Linked DNA regions of Homo sapiens: all the other regions are linked to region 4. The links come from fine-mapping of genetic effects on gene expression. A gene starts in region 4. Each other region holds a variant in brackets. All regions are shown on one strand. Distances are from middle to middle. Region 1 overlaps EVI5L (ecotropic viral integration site 5 like). Region 2 overlaps LOC124904628 (a long non-coding RNA gene). Region 3 overlaps EVI5L (ecotropic viral integration site 5 like). Region 4 holds the start of EVI5L (ecotropic viral integration site 5 like).

Region 1 (6,016 bases), 31 kb before region 4:
AGGCCAGTCCGTGACTGTGTAAATACACTTTATTTTCCATTTTTCCCGCCTGGGCGACATGTGAACAGGCAGTGTGCAAAATGGTGGCGGGCAGTGTAGGGGGCGTGTGGAGAGCCCCGTGGGTGCCTGCCCCGGTCCCCAGGCTTCGTAACACTGAAAAGTGGGCAGCTAGGAAGCGGGGACGGAGCAGGGGTCCCCACCCAGGAAGCGCCAGGGAGATTGCTTGTGACGCTACTCTACTGGAGGCTCCGGGAGCACCGAGGGGGGCAGCCCCCAGGGTCATGAGGCCCGGGGGGCCGGGGGAAGGGAGGAAGGGGCCTGGGGGGCATCGTTGGATTTTGGCACCGTTCTCAGCTCTGATTCAGCAGAGACAACGGGACCACCAGGAGGAAGTGAGGGGAGGCCGCTCGCTGGGAAGCTCCTGCCTGGGGGCCTGGCTCTGGCTGAGGGTGGGGCTGGAAACACATGAAGAAAGGGAAGTAGATGGAGACCGAGGACCCCTGTAGAGATACCCCTCCATCACTGGCCAGGATAGGGGGCGCGAGTGTCTCCCAGAGAAAGATGTGGGGCACTGGGGAGAGGGGTCTCTTCACTTCCTGGAAGCTGCTCTGGCCCCAGAGAAGCAGGGAGGCTTCCCGTTAGCCACTCAGTCCCCAGGCGCCCCGCACATAGTAGGGGGACTTTGGTTTCCGCTGCAGGGGCCACGGTGCCTGCGCCAGGCAGGAGAGGCCGGCCTGGCCATCTGTCCCCAGCGGCCTGACTCCCCTAGAGATGGCCAGGGGCTAGTCAAGGGTCACTTCATCCCGAGGAGTGTTGTGGGGTGCTGATGTCCAGCCCAGAGCTGGCGCTCTCCTTCCTCAGGCCTCGGCTACCTCCTGAGCACTTCCCAGCAATGTCGCCCCTGTCCCAGAAGGAAGCCTGCCAGGAGGTGGGAGCTGCCTGCTCATTCAGTGCTGGGACCTCTGGGTCGTCTGTCCCCTGCCCTCTGCCCTCCTGTTAAGAGAGCAGTCAGCCCCTCCAGGCACCCCTGGAACGCCAGAGGGCCCGGAGGGGTACAGACCAAGATGGGTAAACACTGCTGGGGATAGAGAGCCTGCCCCGGGGCCCTGAGGAGCCCAGGTCGGACCCTACCCTCTGCGCTGCCTCGCCGGGCCTCGCTTTAGGGGTGGCCGAGCCACAGAGGGCGCGTAGTTTGTCAAGTGCGGCAGGTGGGGAGCAGAACGCGGACTGCCCGGGCGCCCCCCGCGGCTGCGGCCTCCTGACTCCGGGCGCGCTGGGCATGGCCTCAGTTGTCCAGACCCTGGCTGTAGGGCGCGGCCAGCTCATCGGCGTCGCTGTCTGAGCTGCCCTCGCTGTCCTTGGCCGGCCGCTCCAGACGGCGGAAGAAGCGCGCATCGCGCGGGGACAGAGGGTACAATGCGTCCTGCAGGGCAGCGCCCACGCCTACGCCAAGTAGCTCCTCGTCCGACGACGGCAGCGAGTCCTCGTCCAAGTGCCGCGCCAGGCTCAGCCCATCGAAAGCCAGCGGGTCCTCGAAGGGCGGCGGGCCCTTCAGCAGCCGCACCTGGGGCGGGGGACCGGCGCTGCAGGCGTGGACCGGCCTTCTGCCCCGCCCTCCCAGCCGCATCCTCCGCAAGGCACCTGCGCTCGGCTCGTCCCAGGCCGACGACACCCAGGCCTGTCCCCGGCATCCCCGCGCCGGCTCACCTCGGCCTTCAGCTCCTCGATCTGGTCCTTGAGCTCGCGGATGTACTGCGATGAGTCCGAGTGGTTCAGCTGGCCCTGGATGCGGCCTTCCTCCCTCTGCGGGGTGCGCCAGGTCACGCGGGGCCAGTGCCATGCTGGGCCTGGGGTCCGGCCCCGCTCCTGCCCCGGGCCCTGCCCCCGCCCCCGCCCCCCGACCCCGGCCCCGCCGATCACCTGGATCTCCAGCTCGGCAATGCGCTGCCGCATCTCGGCCACCGCAGCCATGCTGTCCGCCTCCCGCAGTCGCACAGCCATCACCTCCTCCTTGCTCTGGGGTCGGGGGATTGGGGGGAAAGGAGGGCGGGTCAGGGGGCGCGGCGCATCAGGGGGCGGGACCGCGGGCAGGGGCGAATGAGGAGGCGGGGCCGCGGGCGGAGGCGGGTCAGGAGGCAGGACCGCGGGCAGGGGCGGGACCGCGGGCAAGGGAGGTGCGGGCGGGGGCGGGTCAGGAGGCGTGGCCGCGGGCGGGGGCGGATCAGGAGGCGGGACCGCGGGGGGGGGTGGTCAGGAGGCGGGGCCGGATCAGGAGGCGGGGTCGCGGGCAGGAGCAGGTCAGGAGGCGGGGCCGCGGGCGGGGGCGGGAGGACCGCGGGCAGGGGCAGATCGGGAGGCAGGACGCCGGCAGAGGCGGATTGGGGGCGGGGCCTCATGTAGGGGCGCGTCCGGGGGCGGTGCCACGGGCAGGGCGGGGCCGCGGGGGTCTGCACCTTGCACTCGGCCTCGGCCTGCTTGCGGCGGCTTTCGCTGAGCTGCGTCTGCAGCCCCTTGTTCTGTGCAGCCAGGTACTGCAGCTTCTCCTGCAGCGCCGCGCGCTCCGCCTCCACGCGGTTCAGAAGGTTGCGGTGGATGTGGTCCTGGGATAGGGAGGAAGGGAGGACGGAGGACGGCGGCGGTCAGGGCCTAACTCAGGGGCTGGCCACGGACACCACGCCCCTTCCCCAACGAGCAGGCCCCCCGAGTCCACCTGCGTCTCAAGTTCCACCACGCGCTGCCGCAGCTCGCGGCCCTCGGCCAGGGCCTGGGCCTCGCGCAGACGCACGCTCATCAGCTCGTCCTGCAGCTCGCCCACGACCAGCTTCCGTGGGGACTCCTTCCAGCGGCCGCCGCGGGCCAGATGGGCCTGGGGGGTGAAGCCGAGAAGCCGGCGGTCAGCCTCCGCCCAAGAACCCCGAGGGGATGGCCCTAGGGG[GC/C]GCTCTGCCCGCCGGCGCCCACCCGGCCCTCACCTGCCAGGTGTCCGAGAGCTCCTGCAGCTGCAGTTTAAGCTCTCGCGTCGAGGCCACCGCCTGGCCTTCCCGCACCTTGAGCGCCTTCAGCTCCTCCTGCAGCTGCGCCACATTGTTCTCGTCGGGCAGCGAGCTGTTCCTCTGCGGGAAGAGTGGGGTCAGGGCCTGGGGGAGCAGCGCAGCCGCATGGCCCTTCCTGCAGGACAAACGCCCCCAGCCACGTTTCCTCCTGAGCTCTGCCTTGGGCGGCTCAGATGGGGGAGGGCGACCCCCTTGACAAGGCCCACGGGGAGCGGACTCGCCTGTGGAACCCGGTTGGAGTTCCTCAGCTATAAAATGGGTGTAGTAACAGCACCTACTCTCACAGGGTGTCCTAGGGCAACCCCCATAAACGCCGCGCTGCACACACTGACTCCCCGAGGTCTGAGATCCATCCCCTCAGGGACATGATCAGGTGGAGGACCTGCCCCAGCAGAAACACCCTGTCTGCCCTCTGGCCCCCAGGCCAGGCCACACCAGGCCAGGCAGTCCCTCTCCCTGGGAACAGGCTGAGTGCCAGCCTTGGCCCTGTCCTGGTGTCCCAGGGCTCATTGATGGAGGATTTGTGCTCCAGGACCCAAATCCAGCTTTCTGGATGAGGTCCGCACTGACCCGTGTTTGGGTCTAGGGCTGGGACAGATCTAGCAGCATGTCCTGGAGGCACACTTCCCTATGAAGTGGAGGGAGGCGGGAGCGGAGCCCAGCTCTTGGCTGGTGATGAGGGCCTGGAAGCAGATGGCCTCTCAGTCCTCCATTTGGGAGGACTCCCAAAATAGTGCAGGCTCGAGGGGGTGGGGAATGGCTCCTGCTGAATGTGTGAATGGGTCCCTGGGTGCTTTCCTTCCTCTGGGAGCTCCGTGGGAGAGTGGAGTCGATGCCAAGTCAGAGAGCAGTTGGGGAGGAACCCAGAAGCCCTGGGATGGTGTCTGCATGGGAATGTGTAGGGAGGCAGCCACAATGGGCCTGGGCCTTCCTTTCTCTCCTTCCTGTCCCCCTCCCCCATCCCCCTCTCTCCTCCCTTCCTTCCTGGAACCCAGTACTGGGGGAAACACACACAGGTGGGATGCAGGTATCCGGGAAGCTCATAGAAGCTGCCACGCTGCTGGAGTTTGCCTCATACAGGAGCGTGGGCATGCCCCGCGTGGGGTTGTGCTGTGTGTGTGCATATGTATGGTTGTGTGTGCATGGGGGTGGGGGATTCTGACCTGGGGTCACTCCCAAAGCTTATCCAGGACCCCTCCTGTGCCCCAGGGTCCCCCCGACACCTGCCCGTCTGCCTCCCCATTGCACCTTTTCCATGTCGAGAACCTTGTCCTGCATCTCCCGAAGGGCCCCCAGTGTCTCCGTCTCCCGCAGCCTCGACTGCTCCAGCTCGGTCTCCAGGTGGGACACGAAGTCTTCTGTGAGGCGGGGGTTCTCCTGGGGGAGGCAGAGAGCTGCGTGGGGCCCCAGGCCATGGCTGGGGGATGGGCAGCCTCCATGCCTGCTGGCTTCTCCCCGCCTCCCCAGAGCCCTTCAGCAGGGAGAGGGGCCCAGGCTTGGGGTGTCCTGGGCTGGACCCCCTGATGCTCAGGGCCTAGAGGTCCTGGCATCCATGCAGCTGGCCCGGTCCAGCTTCCTTCCTGGAAAGGCTGCACAGAGGGGACATTCTGAAAGGTGACTTGCCTTGGCCTTCGGATGCCCCGCGGGACCCCAGTGACTGGTTTTCCGGGATCACTGGTGAGGGTGGGAGATGGGTTCTTGCTGGGTGGTCACCGTTCCAGCCACATGGTGGGCGAGGCAGGGGGTGGGGGAGAGGCCTGGGGCTGTGCACCTGTCTTTCCACCTCTCTCCTCTGCATCCCACCCTCCATTTCAAATCAGGGAAGGATGAGGAAAGAGTTTGTGGGTATCACCCTCTTGCTCCATGCCCTGGCTTCTCAGAAGTTCCCCAGTGGGGGCCCCTGGAGTGATGGACACTGCCACCTGGACCTGAAAAAGGACACCTGGTCCCTGGGGTGGGAGCCGGGCTCCCTCTCACTGACCTTGTGGCCTGGCAGGACAGTTCTCTGGGGGACTGCCTCAGCCCTCCCAGCCACCATCCTCTTCCTGTGGGTCTCTGAGATCCACGTGTGACGGTGGCTCTGCCTCGGCCCAGATGGCCTCCAGGCCCCATGTGGCTCCTCTGGGCCACCTCATCTTGCCTGCAGTGGCCTCCCTTTGGGCCTGAGGAGGTGGCCTTGGGCCTCCCCGATCTCTGCATCCCCCCAAGGTTGGAGCTCAGGGGTGGCTGGTGGAGTCTCTCTAACGAGCCTGAAAGGCGGCCTCATGCAGTGGGTGGGATGAGCCCAGCCTCAGTTTCCCTAATGTCCATGCTGCCTCAGAGCAAGGTGGGACAAGAGTGCTCACAGACTCTGAGGGCCACAACGCCAGCATCATACGGATGTGGTTCATGGGGACAAGTGAGAAACAGTGAAGCTCTCCTTCTCCCCAGGAGCAGTGGATCCGCTAGAATCCCTGGGCCAAGGCTTGAGCCACAGTCTCTGGGCCTGGGGGCGGAGGGGGCACCTCTGTATTGGATGGCTCTTCTTTCTCAAGCACTCCATGGTTTCTCCAACCTACACCCCACTGCCAGGCCCTGCTGGGTCAGGCCAGGATGGCAGCGGGACCTACAGCGTCGCTCCCGGCCCCTCCAGGGCATGTGTCCCTGTGGCCTGCAGGGCTTAGGACTGCAGCCACTGGGGGTCCCTGCGATCAGGAAGGCCAACTGCTGAGTGCAGCTGCAGTTAAGTTTTTTTTTTTTTTTTTTTTGAGATGGAGTCTTGCTCTGTCACCCAGGCTGGAGTGCGGTGGTGCCATCTTGGCTCACTGCAACCTCCACCTCCCGGGTTCAAGTGATTCTCCTGCCTCAGCCTCCTGAGTAGCTGGGACTACAGGTGCGCACCACCATACCCAGCTTATTTTTGTATTTTTATTAGAGATGGGGCTTCATCATGTTGGCCAGGCTGGTCTCGAACTCCTAACCTCAGG
Region 2 (6,016 bases), 30 kb after region 4:
GAGACAGGAGAATCACTTGAACCTGGGAGGTGGAGGTTGCAGTGAGTTGAGATCATGCCATTGCACTCCAACCTGGGCAACAAGAGTGAAACTCCTTCTCAAAAAAAAAAAAAAAAAAGATATCCAAGTCCTAATCCCTGGATCCTATGAATGTCACCTTATATGGCAAAAAGAGACTTTGCAGATATGATTGCGATTTTAAGATAGAAAGATATTGTGTGCTAAATAATCTGTCTAGTCACTACCTCTGGTTCCTGGCAGGGGGCGTCTAAACTCTTGGAATTTTCCAAGTAATAGAAGTGTCTTAATGGCCAACAAACATATGGAAAAATGCTCAACATCACTAATGATCAGGGAGATGCAAATCAAAACCACAATGTGATACCACCTTACTCCTGCAAGAATGGCCATAATCAAAGACTCAAAAAATAATAGATGTTGGTGTGGATGTGGCAAACAGGGAACACTTTTACACTGCTGGTGGGAATGTAAACTAGTACAACCACTATGGAAAACAGCGTGGAGATTCCTTAAAGAACTAAAAGTAAAACTACCATTTGAGCCAGCAATCCCACTACTGGGTATCTATCCAGAGGAAAAGAAGTCATGATACAAAAAAGATACTTGTTCACACATGTTTATAGCAGCACAATTCGCAAGTGCAAAAACGTGGAACAAACCTAAATTTCCATCAGTCAACGAATGGGTGAAGAAACTGTGGCATACATATAAAATGGAATACTACTCAGCCATGAAACGGAATGAATTAATGGGATTTGCAGCAACCTGGATGGGACTGGAGACCATTATTCTAAGTGAAGGAACTCAGGAATGGAAAACCAAACATTGTATACTCTCACTCATAAGTGGGAGCTAAGCTATGAGGATGCAAAGGCATAAGAATGACACAGTGGATTTTGGGGGCTCAAGGGGAAAGGGTGGAAAGCTGACGGATAGAATACTACAAATTAGGTGCAGTGTATACTGCTTGGGAGATGGGTGCACCAAACTCTCATGAATCACCACTAAGGAATTTAATCATGTAACCAAATACATGTTCCCCCAAACCTATGGAAATAAAAAAAAAAAAGAAGCGTCTTTATTATTCATGGGGGCCCTGGACCATAACTGAGCTTATACCAAGGAGGTGACTCAGGATGGGGGCTGGTCATGCCAGAAACACCAACCACCAAGGTTGGGATTTTTAGCCACCTGACCTCCAGGAAGGGGAAGGGGCTGAAGGTGGGGTTCAATCATGTAGATAATGGTTGGATCAACCCCACCTACTTTTTAATCCTGCCTATTTTTAAATACAAAACTAGCCGGGCATGGTGACACACACCTATAATCCCAGCTACCAGGGAGGCTGAGGCACGAGAATCCCTTGAACCTGGGAGGTGGAGGATGCAGTGAGCTGAGATTGTGCCACTGCACTCCAGCCTGGGTGACAGAGTGAGACTCCATCTAAAAAACAAATAAATGAGGCCAGGCGCGGTGGCTCACACCTGTAATCCCAGCACTTTGGGAGGCTGAGGCGGGTGGATCACGAGGTCAGGAGATCAAGACCATCCTGGCTAACATGGTGAAACCCCGTCTCTACTAAAAATACAAAAAATTAGCTGGGCGTGCTGGTGGGCACCTGTAGTCCCAGCTGTTCCGGAGGCTGAGGCAGGAGAATGGCCTGAACCTGGGAGGTGGAGCTTGCAGTGAGCTGAGATCACGCCACTGCACTCCAGCCTGGGAGACAGCGAGACTGTGTCTCAAAAAAAATAAAGTAAATAAATAAATAAATAAATAAATAAAACAAAACAAAAAAGAAGAGCTCACCAGAGCCAGCAGCCTGAAACAAAAGTGCTGGTGGAAAGGTTTATGGGGTGCCAGTTTAGTCAGTCACCCCTGTGTAGGACACCTATGGAAAACTGTAGGGGGCCCTTAGGAGAATCATCTCCGCAAGCCATTAAGTTCCCAGGCCAGAGGGCATGACCTGCTCTGCGGCTTTACACAGAATGCTCTGGGCTGACACACTCCCTTGAAGTGTTGGAACGTGACCAGACATCCTAGCTCCTTGTAAAACCGGCCCCCACCAGCTGCAGCCCGATAAGTTAAAGACTGTCTTAGCAGTTAGACATATGCTTTTAGCTTAAAGGAAATTCATATAACCGCCACTGCTCTACATCTTTCCAATGACGTACGCTCCCGCTCCTTCACCGTTTCATCCCAGCTGCTTCTTAGATCAAAAGATTGTGCTCAATAAATCGTCAGGCAACCAGAACTCTGGGCGTTTTGCAGCCTTCACTCTAGCAACTGGCCCCCTGGGCCTGCTTTAAAATCTTAACTTGTCTTTTCTCATTCCTTTGTCGCCACCGGACTTCAGGTACCCACGGGTAGTGTTGAGGCTGGACCCCACCATCTGGCGCCCAACGTGGTATCTCCAAAACAACCGGGTGAAGGAATGCAGGAGCGTCGAAAATGAAGGACCGACAGATGGAGAACTCCCAAGGACGAAAAGTTTTTTTTTAATTTTTACTTATTTATTTATTTATTTATTTTTGAGACGGAGTCTCGCTCTGTCACCCAGGCTGGAGTGCAGTGGCTCGATGTCGGCTCACTGCAAGCTCCGCCTCCCGGGTTCACGCCCTTCTCCTGCCTCAGCTCCCAAGTAGCTGGGACTACAGGCGCCCGCCTCCACGCCCGGCTAACTTTTTGTATTTTTAGTAGAGACGGGGTTTCACCATGTTAGCTATGATGGTCTTGATCTCCTGACCTCGTGATCCGCCCGCCTCGGCCTCCCAAAGTGCTGGGATTACAGGCGTGAGCCACCGCGCCGGCCAACGAAAAGACTTTTAAGCTCTGCAGGTAAGCGGGGCGCTCGGAGAATTCCAGGGTAACAACAGGAAATTGTGGGTCAGGCTGAGAGTAGACATAATAATTATTTGAGTTTGGTGCGGCAGTTATTGTGCCACTGTGGTTAAACGTGAGCACCCAAAATCTTCTGTCCCTGTTTCAGCTAATAGAACAATATTCTCCTTGGTTCCCGGAACACAGCTCCATGGATTTGAAAGACTGGGAAAAAATAAGGGCTGACTTCAAACAGGCACAAAAAGAGGGTCAAGAAATTCCTTTCTCCGCTTGGTCTGTGTGGGCGGCAGTGAAAACAGCACGTGAGCCTTTGCAGACTGAGGAGGAACCAGCATTTGGAAATGAAGGAGACGAGTTTGACGGTCAGGAGAGTGCACCATCTAGCTCCAGTTTAAAAAAGGCGGAGAATCAGGAGGTTATATATGCTAACCAAACACATATGAAAGAGACCGTCCAACCTACCGCACCCTCAGGGGAAGCTCCGGAATGGCCACCCGCGCCTAAGCCTTGTGAATTGCGGGCATGGAAGCCTGAGACGCGGTTCGCCGCGCCCATTGTTGCAAAACCTGCCGTTAATTACGGTAAAGGGATGATTCAGGCTCAGCCACCAGTTAATTAAAATTCAGGCTCGCCCTGCCGTTCATTACGGGGAAGGAGCAATTTCCCTTAAAAATGGATGACCCAGCGCCCTGTCTGGGTCGAACAGTGGCCGATCCCTAAGGAAAAATTGGGGGCGCTTTATGAAATAGTTAAAGAATTACTAGAAAAAGGACATGTTTCACACCCACTTTTTCTCCTTGGAATTCCCCAGTATTTGTAATTAAGAAAAAGTCC[G/C]GCAGATGGCGCATGCCGACCGATTTACTAGCGGTCAACGCTGTAATTCAACCGATGGGAGCTTTACAACCAGGGCTCCCATCCCCCATTATAATCCCTAAAGACTGGCCGCTTGTTATTATAGATTTAAAAGATTGCTTTTTTTTTTTTTTTTTTTTTTTTTTTTTTTTTACAATTCCTTTAGCAGAGGCAGATTTCGAAAAATTTGGCTTTACCATCCCTGCAGTTAATAATAAAGAACCTGCAGCCAGATATCATTGGAAGGTTTTACCTCGGGGTATGTTAAACAGTCTCACAATTTGTCAGACTTTTGTAGGCAGAACTATCCAGCCTGTTAGAGATCAATTTCCAGATGTGTGCAGCAAAAAATAGAGGCCAACTTATTCAATGTTATTCATCTTTGCAAAAGGCAATTACAAACGCTGGATTGCTTAAAGCATCTGACAAAATTCAAACAACCACTCCTTTTCAGTATTTGGGAATGCAAGTACAGGATAGAGCATTAAGCCTCAAAAGGTTCAAATTAGAAAAGCTTCTTTAAAAACCTTAAATGGGCGGGGGGGCAGTGGCTCACGCCTGTAATCCCAGCACTTTGGGAGGCTGAGGCGGGCGGATCACAAGGTCAGGAGATCGAGACCATCCTGGCTAACACAGTGAAACCCCGCCTCTACTAAAAATACAAAAAATTAGCCGGGCGTGGTGGCTGCGCGCCTGTAGTCCCAGCTACTCGGGAGGCTGAGGCGGGAGAATGGCGTGAACCCGGGAGGCGGAGCTTGCAGTGAGCCGAGATCAAGCCACTGCCCTCCAGCCTGGGGGACAGAGCAAGATTCCGTCTCAAAAACAAAAACAAAAACCAAATAAACCTTAAATGATTTTCAAAAATTGTTAGGCGATATTAATTGGATTCGGCCCACCTTAGGAATTCCTACTTATGCTATGTCTAATCTCTTCTCAATACTGAGGGGAGACTCCAGTTTACACAGTAAAAGAGAACTAACACCCGAGGCCATGAAAGAGTTAAGAGTAATTGAAGAAAAAATTCCGCAAGCCCAGGTCAGTAGGATTGACCCAGACTTGCCTTTACAATTCATTGTTTTCCCTACTTCACACTCCCCAACGGGGATTATTGTTCAAAATAATGATTTAGTTGAATAGTCCTTTTTGCCACGTAATACCATAAAAACACTTACAGTATATTTAGATCAGATGGCAATTTTAATTGGACAGGCTCGTATGCGAGTTGTTAAACTTTGTGGCACTGAACCTAATAAGATTATAGTTCCTATAAATAAAAATCAGGTTAAACAGGCATTTATTAATTCAGTTACATGGCAAGTTTATTTAGCAGAATTTGTTGGATGTATTGATAATCATTATCCTAAAAATAAAACTTTCCAGTTCTTAAAATTAACTACATGGGTTCCTCCGAAAATTACTCGTGATGCCCCTTTGGAAGGAGCTGTGACTGGTTTTTTTGTTTTGTTTTTGTTTTTTGAAACGGAGTCTCGCTGTGTCGCCCAGACTGGAGTGCAGTGGCGCTATCTCGGCTCACTGCAAGCTCCGCCTTCCCGGTTCACGCCATTCTCCTGCCTCAGCCTCCCCAGTAGCTGGGACTACAGGCGCCTGCCACCACGCCCTGCTAATTTTTTTGTATTTTTAGTAGAGACGGGGTTTCACCGTGTTCTCAATCTCCTGACCTCGTTATCCGCCCGCCTCGGCCTCCCAAAGTGCTGGGATTACCTGCATGAGCCACCGCGCCCGGCGGGAGCTGTGACTGGTTTTACTAATGGGTCTGGTAAAGATGGAAAAGCGGCAGTCTGGTGGAGACCACGTAATCCAATCACTGGATCTAAATTTACTAGCATTCGGAGAGCTGAGGCTGTTCTGTTTATTTATTAAATTACTTTTACAGCCTTAAGTTCGCTCTGGAGCCCACTCTGTGTGCCTCTTTTTCTTCAACTTCAGCAATTGCCGGACCAAGGTACACATCCTATTTTTATTACACACGTTTGAGCCCACAGATCTCTGCCTGGCCCATTGGCTTGTGGCAAGATCAAGCAGACCTTCAGGTTATGACATCACTGCTTGACCAAGCCACCCAATCACATCAATTTTTCCACCAAAATTGGAGAAACTTATCTAAACAATTTCAACTAGCCCAGAGACTGGCTAAACAAATTATCCTACAATGCCCAGATTACCAGCTGACAGGCACGTTTCCTCCTTAAACAGGTGTTAACCCTAGAGGATTGGAACCTAATCAGTTGTGGCAAACAGATGTTAAACACATCCCTAAATTTTGGAAACTAAGATATGTACATAT
Region 3 (6,016 bases), 20 kb before region 4:
GGTTTCACTGCATTAGCCAGGCTGGTCTCGAACTCCTGACCTCAAGTGATCCACCTGCCTCCGCCTCCCAAAGTGCTGGGATTACATGCATGAGCCATCGCGCCCGGCAATAAATGCTTGTTGAGTAAATAACTAAAATCACGTGTAAAGGGAAGAATGCGCAAGGAAGGAGAGAGAAGCTTTGCACACTCAGGAAACCCCCTGACCTGGCAGGGCTGGTGGGCCAGTTGCCCCAGGAACCAGGGGCCCCGGGTGAGTGCCCACACCCTGCCCTACACACCCTGGTGTCTGGGCCCTGCGTGCTCCATCTTTCCCCAGAGGGCGGTCCCCTTGCGGGGTCCTCCACTGCAACCTTCTTGGAATTCCTCCAGCCCCCAAGGCACGCTGCTGCCCTGGGCCTTTAGCCCTCGACACCCTGGGCCCGGAGCCTCTGCCCAAGTCAGCCTTGCCCACCGCGTGCACATCCTTGTCCAGAGCATTTAGAGTCCGCACTCTAGTTCAGTGGTTTATTGATTGCTTCCCCATGACGCTGGGCGGCCCAGCGGGGCAGGGACCTTGACTGTCTTGGTTACCGCGGCGTCAGGCGGGGGAGGCGCTCACAGCTGGCCTAACAGGTGAAGGACGGCGCAGGTGGGCGGAGGCCTGTCCGCCAAGGACCGCCGGGTCCGCCTGTGCGCTGGGAAGGCCCGCCCCCTAGCGGCCGATCTTTAGAGTACGGAGGGCAGCCCCCAAAGGCCTCCCATCCCTGTCCCCGCCCCTGGGCCCCTGGACTCACTTTGATCTCGATCTGCTCCTCCATCTCCTTGCTCTTCATGGCTGCGTACTCCTTCTCCAGCCTGCAGATCGGGAGGGCCCCGTGGTTACTGTCATGCCCTCGGGGGTCCCCCCTTCTTACCAGTACCCTGGTTGCCCAGCAGGCACCGACCTCTTCATCTTCTTGGGGTTGTACTTGACCTGGTAGGCTTTGAGGACCAGCTTGTCCGGGCAGCTGTCGAACTGGTGGGGGATCACTCTCTGGAAGTACTGTGGGGACACAGCCGGTCACCTGGTCACCAACATGCAGGCCCTGACCACCGGGGGCCGCCCGAGCCCTGTTGCCCTGGAGGGGGGCAGGAACGGGTCTGCCCGGGGTGTCGCCATGTCCTCAACGCCGTGTCCTCAGTGTTTGTGGAGCAATGGAAAGACTGAGCGTGAGGGGAGGGAATGGGGGACTGCCTGCAGCCAAAGCCTTAGTTTCCAGAAGAAAAGCTGGCAGATGCTGGATGTGGTGGCTCATTCATATAATCCCAATGATTTAAAAGCCTGAGGTGGGAGAAATAAATAGCTTGAGCCCAGGAGTTTGAGACCAGTGTGGGCAACATAGTGAGACCCCATTTCTGAAAAAAAAAAATTAGCTGGACATGGTGATGTACACCTCTGGTTCCAGCTACTCAGGAGGCTGAGGCGGGAGGATCGCTTCAGCCCAGGAGGTGGAGGCTGCAGTGAGCTAGGACTGCACCACTGTACTCCAGCCTGGGCCACAGAGCAACTCCGACTTAAAAAAAAAAAGAAAAAGGTAAAAGAAAAAAAGAAAAGCAGGCCAAGGAGGCTCTCCTGGGAGTGAAGGCTGAGGGTCGGGGGGTCTGACAGAGGGGACCTTCGTGGGGGAAGGAGGATGGGTATGCCGGGGGCCTCGGGCCTGTGCAAAGGGTTAAGGTAAGCCCAGGGGGGACACAGCTCCTGCACCCGGCCCAGCTGGCCCCCTCTGGTAGCTGTGGACAATGCCTGCCCATGTTCACGGACACAACCGTGGCCTTTGTGCATTCTTCCCTGAAGCACCAGCTGGAGGACGCGGGGAGGGGGCAGGGGCCCGCACAGCAGAGAAGTAGCGGTGGGAGGCAGGCTGGCCAGCAGCAGGGCCTCCAGGCAGGCCGGGCTGGGGCGGGGCAAGGCGTGAGGTTGCCTAGACCCCCAAACTCCCTCCTGTGCCCTCACCAGGCTGGGCGGCAGGGTGGGGATGCCCTCATGGTCAGTCAGTCATGATCTGCCATCAGGCTTTGGGGCATCTGCGGGGTTGGGGGCAGGAGGTGGGCAGTGGGGCTCCCAGGGCTCAGCCTGGGCCTCCTGTCTCCCTGCGGCCAGGCTGCTGGCCCCTGACTGTGTCTGGCAGAGCCTAGGGGGTCCTCTGGTCCCTTAGGGAGACCTCAGGGGAACAGAGTGGATGGGAACAGATCAGGGATGTCAGGCACACCACCTTCCACCCTCGAAGCCGGGCCCTCTCTGTCACTTGTGAGGGCATCCTGTGACTCGAAGCCCCTGATT[G/A]GGGGCAGCCCCACCGGCCCTGGCCCTCCCGGCCCACCTGGGACATCCCCTCCATGTCCAGCTGCATCAGCTCTGCCTGGTTCACCTGCAGCAGGGCGAGGCCCACTCGGAACACGATCTCCAGCCCCTGCAAAGGCGGCAAAGGCAGTGGGAGGTGGAGGGCAGGGAGGCTCCTGTTCCAACCACCCCCAAGGGGCTCTCTTCCCTCCCCAGGCACCATCGGTCCTCACCTCATACATGAAGATGTCAAAGACCCGGGTGGCGACGGGGAGTGGGAAGGTGGTCAGGAACAGTGTGAGGAACCAGGACGAGGCATACATGGATGTGTGGAAGCTTTGGGAACGGAAGTGGGTGTTGAGGTCTGGGAGCTGCTCCTGCAGGGGTGGGAGGCCGGGTGGGCACAGTGAGGGGGACGCCCTCCCACCGGGGGGTGCTGGGCCTCAGTGTCCCCGCCTCCAGGGAGCCTTCCTGGACCTGCGCTGGGCAGCCTGAGGCTCCCTTCCTGGTGCTCCCTCAGCACTCTGTCTGAGGGAGGCCGAAGCACCCCCGAGCTTTGAGTAGCACGGGGTGGGGGACAGGCAGGGATGGCAAGATCTGTAGCCGCCTGTGTTGGGGGCCCACCCTGGGTAGGTGATGCGCCCGTGGCAGCTCATGGGGTCCTCACGACAGCCTGAGAGGGTGTGTCTGAGGCTGGGGGAGTTGGGTCACTCCCCACAGACACCCTGAGACCCAGAGGTGGAGCATGGGCAAGTGGCAGCCTCTGGCCCTGGGGGGAGCCCCCCCCCCACCTTGTTACGTGACCTGCCAGCCACTGTACCTCCCTTGGACCCCAGCATAAAGCTTTGTGCAAGCTGTGTTGGATTGGCCTGAACTCTAGACAGCCAGAAAGTGGCAGACGGCTGGGGAAACTGAGGCCGGAGAAGGCGTTAGGATCCCGGGCTTCCTCCCAGCGCCAGGGGCTCTCTGCGCCCTGAGTTTGCAAGCTTGGCTGTGGGAGGGCTCTGCTACCCAGCCTGAGGTGGGGTGGTGCCTTCTCTGCAGCCCAGGCCTCCTGCTTGTGGCACTACCAGGCCCCCTAAGGCTACAGCACCGTCCATGATCCAGGCCCAGGGAGTGGGGCTGTCACATCCAGGGATGACTGCACAGCCCCACCTGCCATGGCAGCTGAGGCGGGCCGGTGTGTGTGTGTGTGTCTGCGTGTGTGTGTATGCATGCGGGTGTGTGTATGTTCGCAAACGGCCTTGGCGGCTCTGCCTGCCAGCCGGGAGCAGGCCCTGCGGGGGCTGCTATTTATAAACAGACGTCTGCGGCTCTCCAGTAATCAGGCAGGCAGACAACACTCCCTCCTTCCACCACACTCTGGAGCAGACAGGGAGGTGGCTGTGGCTGTGTCCGATGTGAGCCTGCCCCACCCCTCTGCCTCAGCAGCCCTGGGAGCCCCCCTTCAGTGGTGGCTCTCCTGTTCCTCCAAGCATCCTTCAGGGCAGTGCTGCATGGAAAGAGGAGTGCCTTTTGGAGTTGGAACGTCCAGGTGTGATTTCACAGGCTTGGAATTTTCAGTCCAAGAGGTGCCCGGGTATGGTCTAGGGTGCCAGCCCTGCCCTTCTGCGATCCTGCTCCCTTGCGGCCCTGCCCACCTGTGGCCCTGCCCTCCTGCAGCCCTGCTCTCCTGCGGCCCTGCTCACCTGCAGCATGTACTCGAACTGATAGATGCAGAGCCCGAGCTCGGCCATGCTGGGTTTGAAGAGCTCCCGCAGCCGGTACTCCTGCATCAGCCGCACGAACACACAGAAGGCCTCCTCCTCAGGCATCTAGGGGGGACGGGCAGGTGGGGGGGCTCAGGGCAGCGCAGCGGGGAGGGGCATCTCGCTGCTCATCAGGGCCCTGGGGTACAGGGGCCCATGTCCATGTCGGTACCTGGCTCCCTAGACTCTCATGACACACTGTTGGTCCCTGTGTCCTCACAAGCTGTTTTACTGATGGAAGACCTGAGGCTGAGGTCACCTGCCAAGGGCCACTCGGCAGGAAACAGGGGAGCTGGACCTGAACCCAGGGCTGGCCACTGCCAGCATCCCCCTGGTTAGGATACCTCCTGTCCCAGCTGCGTCCTCTCTCCCTGTCAGCCTCCCGATTTCTCTGGAGGAGACCCCCAAGCCCCATAAACACCACGCTGGATGGCTTAAGTCCCCAGCCTGAGGTTCCTGTCCAACCCTGAGATGTGGCAGAGAGAGACAGCCTATCCCTCCAAACCCGGTCTCTGTCCTGGATGGTACAGCAGACAGGACCCAACCAGACAGGTGCCACTCACTGGGCCTTGGCCTGGCGATTGGCAGAGGTCACGGGTGTGGATGGAGAAGGAGGATCTACCCCTAGCAAGACGCTGGGTGGAGGACACGCCACTTCTGTCCATCTCTTGGGGGCCGAGCCCAGGGTGGGCTGTTGTCTGGCAGGAGCCCAGCCACCCCCCAGCCACCTACCTGCATGAGGAGCAGGCCCACGATGAAGGCGCTTCCCTGGCAGTAGCCCACCTCCCGGTCTACCAGCGAGTATGCCTAGAAGGGAACAAGTCCTGAGAGCAGGGTCCCGCCGTCCAGCACAGCCGGTGAACTGGGGAACTTCTCCTTCCTTTGGGACCGAGGGAGCGGGGAGCCCTGGGCCTCACCTTCATGACGTTGAAGAGGACCTCCTGGCCCAGGCTGTCCTGGCCCTTGAAGAACTCATGTTCCGGGTAGGTGCGGGCGATGTCCCTGCGGATCAGCTTCTCGCACGGCGAGGACATCTTGAGCAGCTCGGAGTACTGGTTCTTGACGGGCATGTCCGTGGCGCTGCACAGAAGCTGCCACACGATGGCCCGGAAGTGGTGGGGGATGCCCTTGCGGATCAGCTCCTGGCCACGGGAGCGGGAAGCGGGGGCTGGACTCGGTCCCAGCGCAGCCTCCCCGTGGCCACCCAGCCCAGCTCCTCAGGCGTGGCTCATCCAGGCCTCAAGCATGGCACAGAACTCATGGTCCCCAATCCTTTTTTTACCCCCTTTTTTCAGAGACAGGGTCTCCCTCTGTCACCCAGGCTGGAGTGCAGTGGTGCGATCATAGCTCCCTGCAGCCTTGAACTCCTGGGCTCAAGCGATCCTCCTGCCTCAGCTTCCTGAGTAGCTGGGACTACAGTTGTGCACCACCACGCCTGGCTAATTTTTAAACTTTTTTTTTTTTTGAGATGGAGTCTCACTCTGTTGCCCACGCCGGAGTGCAGTGGCGTGATCTTGGCTCACTGCTACCTCTTGCCTCCCAGGTTCAAGTGATTCTCCTGCCTCAGCCTCCCAAGTAGCTGGGATTACAGGTGCACGCCACCACGCCCAGCTAATTTTTGTATTTTTAGTAGAGTCGGAGTTTCGCCATGTTGGCCAGGCTGGTCTTGAACTCCTGACCTTAGGTGATCTGCCTGCCTCGACCTTCCAACGAACTGGGATTACAGGCGTGAGCCACTGCGCCCGGCCTACCTGGCTAATTTTTAAACTTTTTATAGAGTCGGAGTCTCATTACGTTGCCCAGGCTGGCCTCGAACTCCTGGCCTCAAGCGATCCTCCCACCTTGGCCGCCCAAAGTGCTGAGATTCCAGGCGTGAGCCACCACACCCCCATCCTTCATGGGCACTACAGGGCAGCAAGCACATGGGCACTCGAGGGTGCAGGGCCTGTCCAGCACCACCCTGACTCACT
Region 4 (6,016 bases):
TCCCAACTAGGGATCCCCTTTGCTGGGGAGCCCCCCACCATGTGTGCCAAGTGTACAGATGGCACTGGGGACACAAGGGCTTGTAGTAAGACGCCTATCAAAGGAAGTACAGGGACACGCCTCCCTGAGCGCACCACGCTTGCTCCTGCCTCTTGGGCGTGTGTCCAAGCACTTCTGCTGCCTGGAACACCCTTCCCTGCCACGCCTGCCTGTGACCTGGTCCATACGTCATCCCTGCTGTGCCTTCCCCAACACCCCAGGGATGCATCAGGCTTTTTTTCCGGGCTCCCATTGCAGCCTGCTGTACATAATTCTGTCTCATGCTCCCCGCAGCAGGCCTCAGGCCAGGATGGCAAGGGCGCGTGCTGCAATCCTGGTTCCTCCGAGTTTTGGGGAGGATTAAATGAGATAATATGTCAATGGTGCTTGGCATGGTGCTGAGCACATGGCGGGGGCCGCCGCATGCCAGTGAGAGGACTTTAGACGCAGAGCAGGGACCACATTGTACACATCTTACATTCCTTCACACCCCAACATCTGACTCCAGGCCCAGGGCTTCCCTGTAACAACTGGCATCTCTATTCTGCAAGAGGAAATTGAAATATACATTCCTCCTCATCCGTCTGCCCCCTCAAAGCTCAAACAAAGATGCAGCTCCACGAGCCCAGTCTCGGGTAAAACTGCGTTCGTATCACTGACAAGTCCTCCTCGTGGTTTCCTATAGAGTTCACAGTCATCCTGGGAAGCCTTCATACCCCACTGTCTCTGCACAAAATTCCACCCTGGGGAGGCTGTAGAGTTTAGTTTCCTGTGCGTGAGAGATACCACGTGACCTTCAGGAGTCTTTTCCTCCACGCCTTCCTTCAGCAAGTGGACAGAACAAACCTCTTCCTACCCGGTGTCAGAGGTCTATGTGGGGCATCAGAGATCTATGTGGGGCCTCAGCATGGCTATCCGACAGCCCCTCATGCCCACCCTGTTCCCCGTGGTCCTCCTGGGAAGACCCTGTGTATAACCACAAGTCCTGCAGCAGACCATCTCTCATCTCCATTCTTCCAGCTCTGATTCGAGCTGGCTCCCTGCAATACAGCTCAGCCCTAGGAAGATGGCCACTTTTCAATGAAGTGTCAACTAAGACCCTCGCAGGGACCTGGGTGGCCAGTGATTCACAGGAGCCCATAGGACTCCCCTCCGAGACCTTGCTGTCCCCTTCCACACGGCACTGGGGGAACACACAGGGCCACACCCTAGCCTTCCTGCAGTTCCAAGTTCTGTTCTAAAAATTTAGCCGCTCTCCCCGCACCCCAGTTTCCGATGGGGAAGTTGAGGTACTGAGCCGCAATGAGCTTTTTCCTGGATGGTCCACAATCCGCTAGTGAATATCCACAAGGAAGCCTGGGCCTTTTATCTCAGGGTTTCTGAGCACAGTTATGTTGTCAGAAGGACCCCAGACGCACAGTGCCCAGGCTGCGCGGGACTGGACCGGCCCGGCTCCTCGCCCCCTGCAGTCCTGGCCACAGTGTCGCGCCAGCATCTCCTCTCCTGTCTTGTCTCATCCCTGTGCCAGGGCCAAGCCACCTGCGATCCCTTCCAAACCACCCTCCGCTGACCACAGAAGCCCAGAGGAACCTACAGGTTGGACCCTGAGGCCAGAGCTGGGAGTGGGGAGGGCGGCGGGATGGATGGGAAGAGCCACAAAAGACGGAAAGACACAGGGACACGGGTCCTCTAGCTCAATCACATCCCGGCCGAGGGGGAATAAAACGAAGCAGACAACTCATTCATGTTCCACTCGAGCCTCTTCAGCACATTTTTCCCTTCTGAAAATATTCCTTAACAAAGAGCTGCCTGCTTCTGGCAGGCCCCGACCCAGGTCTCAAATGCCAAGATAGAAGGAAGCTGTTTTGTTTTGGCCAAACACACTAGTTGTGGGTGAAAGAACTCTCGGGCTGTCAGGGGCCAGCTCTGAGGAGCAACCTGGACCGCCCTGCTGGCTCTGGCATTTGAGGCCAGTAGGCGTGATGGGGTCAGGAGGCTGGGGGCAGACTTCAGGACGGAAGCCAGGAGCTGTGAATCCTCTCCCTTCCCGCCAGGGGGTGGCATAAATCAGGGGGCGGGCAGTGGTTCCTTCGGGACACTAGTGTAGGAGAGAAAGTGAGCGTCCTTCCCTTTGAAAGGGCACAGCAGGGAAGGATGGATAACTTGGCAGAGGCCTGGGGCAGGTTCCCACAGGGGTAGGTGCTGGGGGATTCTGGGGCCCTGTCACCCTCCAAGGCTCCAGTGTGGGCGCTGGTTTGGTGGAGGGGCAAGTTGGCTTCCTGGGGTGCGGCAGGCACCTCATGGTCTCTGGAATCTCTGCTTGAGCTGGGGGAGCTGTCGGGGACTCTGGGAGGGCCTGGACAGGTGGGATCTGAGGAGGGGTGCAGAAGTGTTGAGTGGGTGGGGGCAGGGGCAGATATGCCTGGGGTCTATGTTGGAGCTCTTAAGTTTTTCTGTGTGTGCTGGGGGATCTAAGTGACTGTGTGTGTGTGTGTGTGTGTGTGTGTGTGTGTGTGTGTGTGTGTGTTTGGGGTTTTCAGAAAGATGGGTGGCTCTGGATGGGGAGTGGGGTGGTTCAGAATATCCAACGGGAGGTCTTGAGCATGGGTGGATTTTTCAGGATCCAGGAGCCAGGATCCAGATGGGGCAGGATCAGTGGAGCTACCACAGTGTGCTGGGTGGACGCCGGGGAGTGGTGTTTAGGGGTGCCCTTGGGCATGTGGCAGCTGGGGTGGGAGATGGGCTAGCAGGCTGAGCTGAGGGCTGTGGGCAGGGGTAGGAAATCCGACTTACAGAGGCCAGAGAGGGGTCCTGTGGGGTCAGCATGGGGGGCGGGTAGGCCCTGAGGCTGGTCTCCTTGGGGAGAGGTGGGGGCAGTTCTGGGCCCAAGATAGGAGGACGTGAAGTGAGGGGGTGCGGGGAGGGGGTGGCAAGTGTTGTCCAGAAGGGAGGGGTCCTGAGAGATCAGGGCAGAAGGTGGACGGGGGTTCTTGGGCTTGGGGGGCGCTTCTGAGGGGCTGATCGGCGGAGTGGGGGGATGGGGAGCCCTGAGGGGGTTCCCGGAGAGGAGTCCTGAGGGTCACTGCAAAGGGTGGACGGGGGTCCTGGGCCTGCGGGGTCCTCATGGGGAGGGGACGGAGTGGGGGAGGGGGATCCTGCAGGAGCTCCTGGGGAGGGGTCCGGAGGGATCGGCAACGAGGGTGGGCAGGGGCCAGGGTCCTCCGAAGGTCCCGGGCTGGGGATGCCGAGGCTCCCAGCGCGGGTTCCGGGGCACGACGGCCCGAGTTGCGGTCCTGCCGGTTCCCCGCGGGCCGCATCACGGAGCCGCCGGCCTGAGCAGGCGCCCGGGAGGCCCGGCCCGCGCCGCCCTACCTGCGCCGAGCGCGCCGCCATCTCCGTGCCGAGCCTCGCCGCCCCGGGCTGAGCCGCCGGATCCTAGCCGCGCCGTTCGCCCCGCAGCCCCGGCCCGGCCCCCTCAGCCGCCCCCCGGGACCGCGGCCGCCGCCGGCTCCGCCGCTGCCATTTCACCCGCTGACAGGAGCCGCTGCCCCGCCCCCGAGGCCCCATCCGCCAATTCGCCGCCCCCAGGCGCCCTGGCCCCGCCCACCAGCCAGGAGTGACGGGGTGTCTGACCATTCCGTGGCCATTCCGTGAGGCGGGCCCTGGCTACGTTCAGAAGGTTGCCGCCTCTGAGGAGAGAGCGAATTGAAATGAGGGAAGCGGTGAAGGACAGGTAGTTTTGCGTATCGGAATGAGGAATCCTATTGATCAACACCTGATAAGACCAATAGCAAGGAAAGTGGGGGTGTGTCCGTGAGGAAAGGCTGCGGCCCTGAGGAACACCAGGCAGACGCGGCCAAGCGTTTGGCACTAAGCCCCGCCCAGAGCCGGGCTTTCTGCCCAATAACGAGACGCCCCGAGACGTCCATTATTATCTGCCCCTCAAACCTGGGCCCTGGCAACTGCTGGGGGCGCCATAAAGAAGATTGACACCTAGGGAACCAATGCTACTGAAGGAGGGCGGGAAAGTGACACTCTCTGACCAATGGGTATGTGAGATTGGTGGGAGCATTGGCGTCCTGGGCGGTGGGGCTTGAGGCCTGGGTTGAATGAAATGGGGGTGGGGCTAAGAGGAGGGCGTGGCCTAGGCCAGAGATGGGGCGGGGTCAAGCAAGGGAGGGGCTCGGGGGTTGGGTCTGAGAAGGGGCGTGGCCAGAAATCCTGAAGACTCACTGGGGACGTGATGGCACCGTGTCGTCTAGGAGCCCAGTTCTGTGCTGGGGACGGGGCGGTTGATATTGGGGGCGGGTCCCATAAAAGATTCAGGCCCGTCCCCTGTCTTACTCCAGGCCAGGTTAAATGTGTTCTCTAAAGCTCACAGAGCCGCGTGTTTCTCCATCAAAGCTCGGTTCGCGCCGTGATCGTGGGGAGGGATAGGCCCTCCCATTCCCCATCCTCCCAGGCTGATAGATCCTCGGGGAGTCGGGATGCAGGGCCTAGGTCGGGTCTCTTCCAGGTCCCCAGCATGGAAACTGCTTATAAACATTTGATGAATGAATGAATGAAAATGGGCCCGTGACTCTTTTAACAGAGAAGGGAGAGGTGGAGAATCCTTCAAGCTAGAGAGGAATTCGTAGGGACAGTTACTGACAGCGGGCAAGACTGACCAAAATGGACTTATTTCCTCCCCAAGATGTAGGGATGGGCCCTGGAGGGGGTGGGGCAGGGAAGGACCTTGTCATAGCAGAGAGGGTGACGTCATAAGTGTGTTTTTATTTATTTATTTTTCAGAGACAGGGTCTCGCTCTGTGTCCCAGTTTGCAGTGCAGTGATGCGAACATAGCTCAATGCAGCCTCGAACTCTTGGACTCCAATGATCCTCCCGCCTCAACCTCCCCAGTAGCTGGGACTACAGGTGCGTGCACACCATGCCCGGCTAATTTTTTTGGTAGAGGCTGGGGTCTTGGTATGTTGCTCAGGCTAGTCGGAAACTCCTGGTGCCAGGTTCTCCCACTTCAGCCTCCCAAAGTGCTGGGATTACAGGCATGAGCCACCTCGCCCAGCTAGATGTCCTAAGTTCAGAATGGGGAAGGGAAGGCTGGACCCAGGGAGGGGCACGTCAGGACTTCCTAAGGTCTGAGAGCTCAACCTTCTCTGTAGTAGGAGACTCTGTGTGGCCTTGCAAGCAGTGACTGACATCCACGTATGGTCCCGGCCTCTGTCCAGCTCTCTCTGCCTCTCCCTCCCTCTTCCTGTCTATTTTGCATCTGCCAACGTTCTGGAACTGTTAATAAACCTCCCCAGGGTCCGGGCGCGGTGGCTCACGCCTGTAATCCCAGCACTTTGGGAGGCCGAGGCGGGCAGATCACGAGGTCAAGAGATCCAGACCATCCTGGCCAACATGGTGAAACCCCGTCTCTACTAAAAATACAAAAATTAGCTGGGCATGGAGGCGGGTGCCTGTAGTCCCAGCTACTTGGGAGGCTGAGGCAGCAGAATCGCTTGAACCTGGAGGCGGAGGTTAAAATGAGCTGAGATCGCTCCACTCTACTCCAGCCTGGCGACAGAGCGAGGCTCCGTCTCAAAAAAAACAAAAACAAAAACAAAAATTAGCCAAGTGTGGTGGCGCACGCCTATAATCCCAGCTACTCAGGAGGCTGAAGCTCGGGAATCACTTGAACCCGGGAGGCAGAGGTTGCGGTAAGCAGAGATCATACCACTGCGCTCCTGCCTGGGTGACGGCGCGAGACTCTGCAAGCAAGAAAGGAAGGAAGGAAAGAAAAGAAAGAAAGGGAAAGAAAAGAAAAGTCCTGGGGTCTCTGGTCCTAGAATACTAGCAGGAATGTGGGAGACAGAGTGGTCTGCGGAGGTTCAGGCCAAGGTGGGGTCCAGAACCTCCCTAGGAAGAGGTCGTGACCAGTTATTTTTCTGGGACCATGCCTAGGAGACACTCAACAGCTGGTGTCTGGGGGATAAA

The links.
Region 1: its variant is fine-mapped to the expression of EVI5L in whole blood (TOPMed, PIP above 0.99).
Region 2: its variant is fine-mapped to the expression of EVI5L in whole blood (TOPMed, PIP above 0.99). The same link has a PIP of 0.9 or more in blood mononuclear cells.
Region 3: its variant is fine-mapped to the expression of EVI5L in blood mononuclear cells (TOPMed, PIP 0.98).

The regions. Positions count from the first base shown.
Region 1 is chr19:7,858,972-7,864,987 of GRCh38, reverse strand. EVI5L (ecotropic viral integration site 5 like) reads right to left here. Exons shown (of 20, transcript NM_001159944.3): 14 at 4,299-4,427; 15 at 2,970-3,110; 16 at 2,711-2,866; 17 at 2,454-2,600; 18 at 1,921-2,016; 19 at 1,708-1,803; 20 at 12-1,564. The coding sequence ends at 1,286. Among named protein-coding and RNA genes, the nearest start is that of PRR36, 12 kb to the left of the region's middle. RefSeq lists enhancers at 523-1,231, 2,326-2,963, 2,964-3,603 and a silencer at 2,234-2,503. The variant GC/C (reference allele first, on the strand shown) is at 2,936.
Region 2 is chr19:7,797,440-7,803,455 of GRCh38, reverse strand. All of the region lies in intron 1 of LOC124904628 (a long non-coding RNA gene), which reads right to left. Among named protein-coding and RNA genes, the nearest start is that of EVI5L, 30 kb to the left of the region's middle. The variant G/C (reference allele first, on the strand shown) is at 3,694.
Region 3 is chr19:7,848,093-7,854,108 of GRCh38, reverse strand. It overlaps EVI5L (ecotropic viral integration site 5 like), which reads right to left. Exons shown (of 20, transcript NM_001159944.3): 4 at 4,964-5,188; 5 at 4,779-4,853; 6 at 3,987-4,112; 7 at 2,532-2,675; 8 at 2,339-2,428; 9 at 926-1,023; 10 at 776-836. Among named protein-coding and RNA genes, the nearest start is that of EVI5L, 21 kb to the right of the region's middle. The variant G/A (reference allele first, on the strand shown) is at 2,302.
Region 4 is chr19:7,827,777-7,833,792 of GRCh38, reverse strand. EVI5L (ecotropic viral integration site 5 like) reads right to left here and starts at 3,575. Exons shown (of 20, transcript NM_001159944.3): 1 at 3,412-3,575. RefSeq lists a silencer at 3,479-3,718.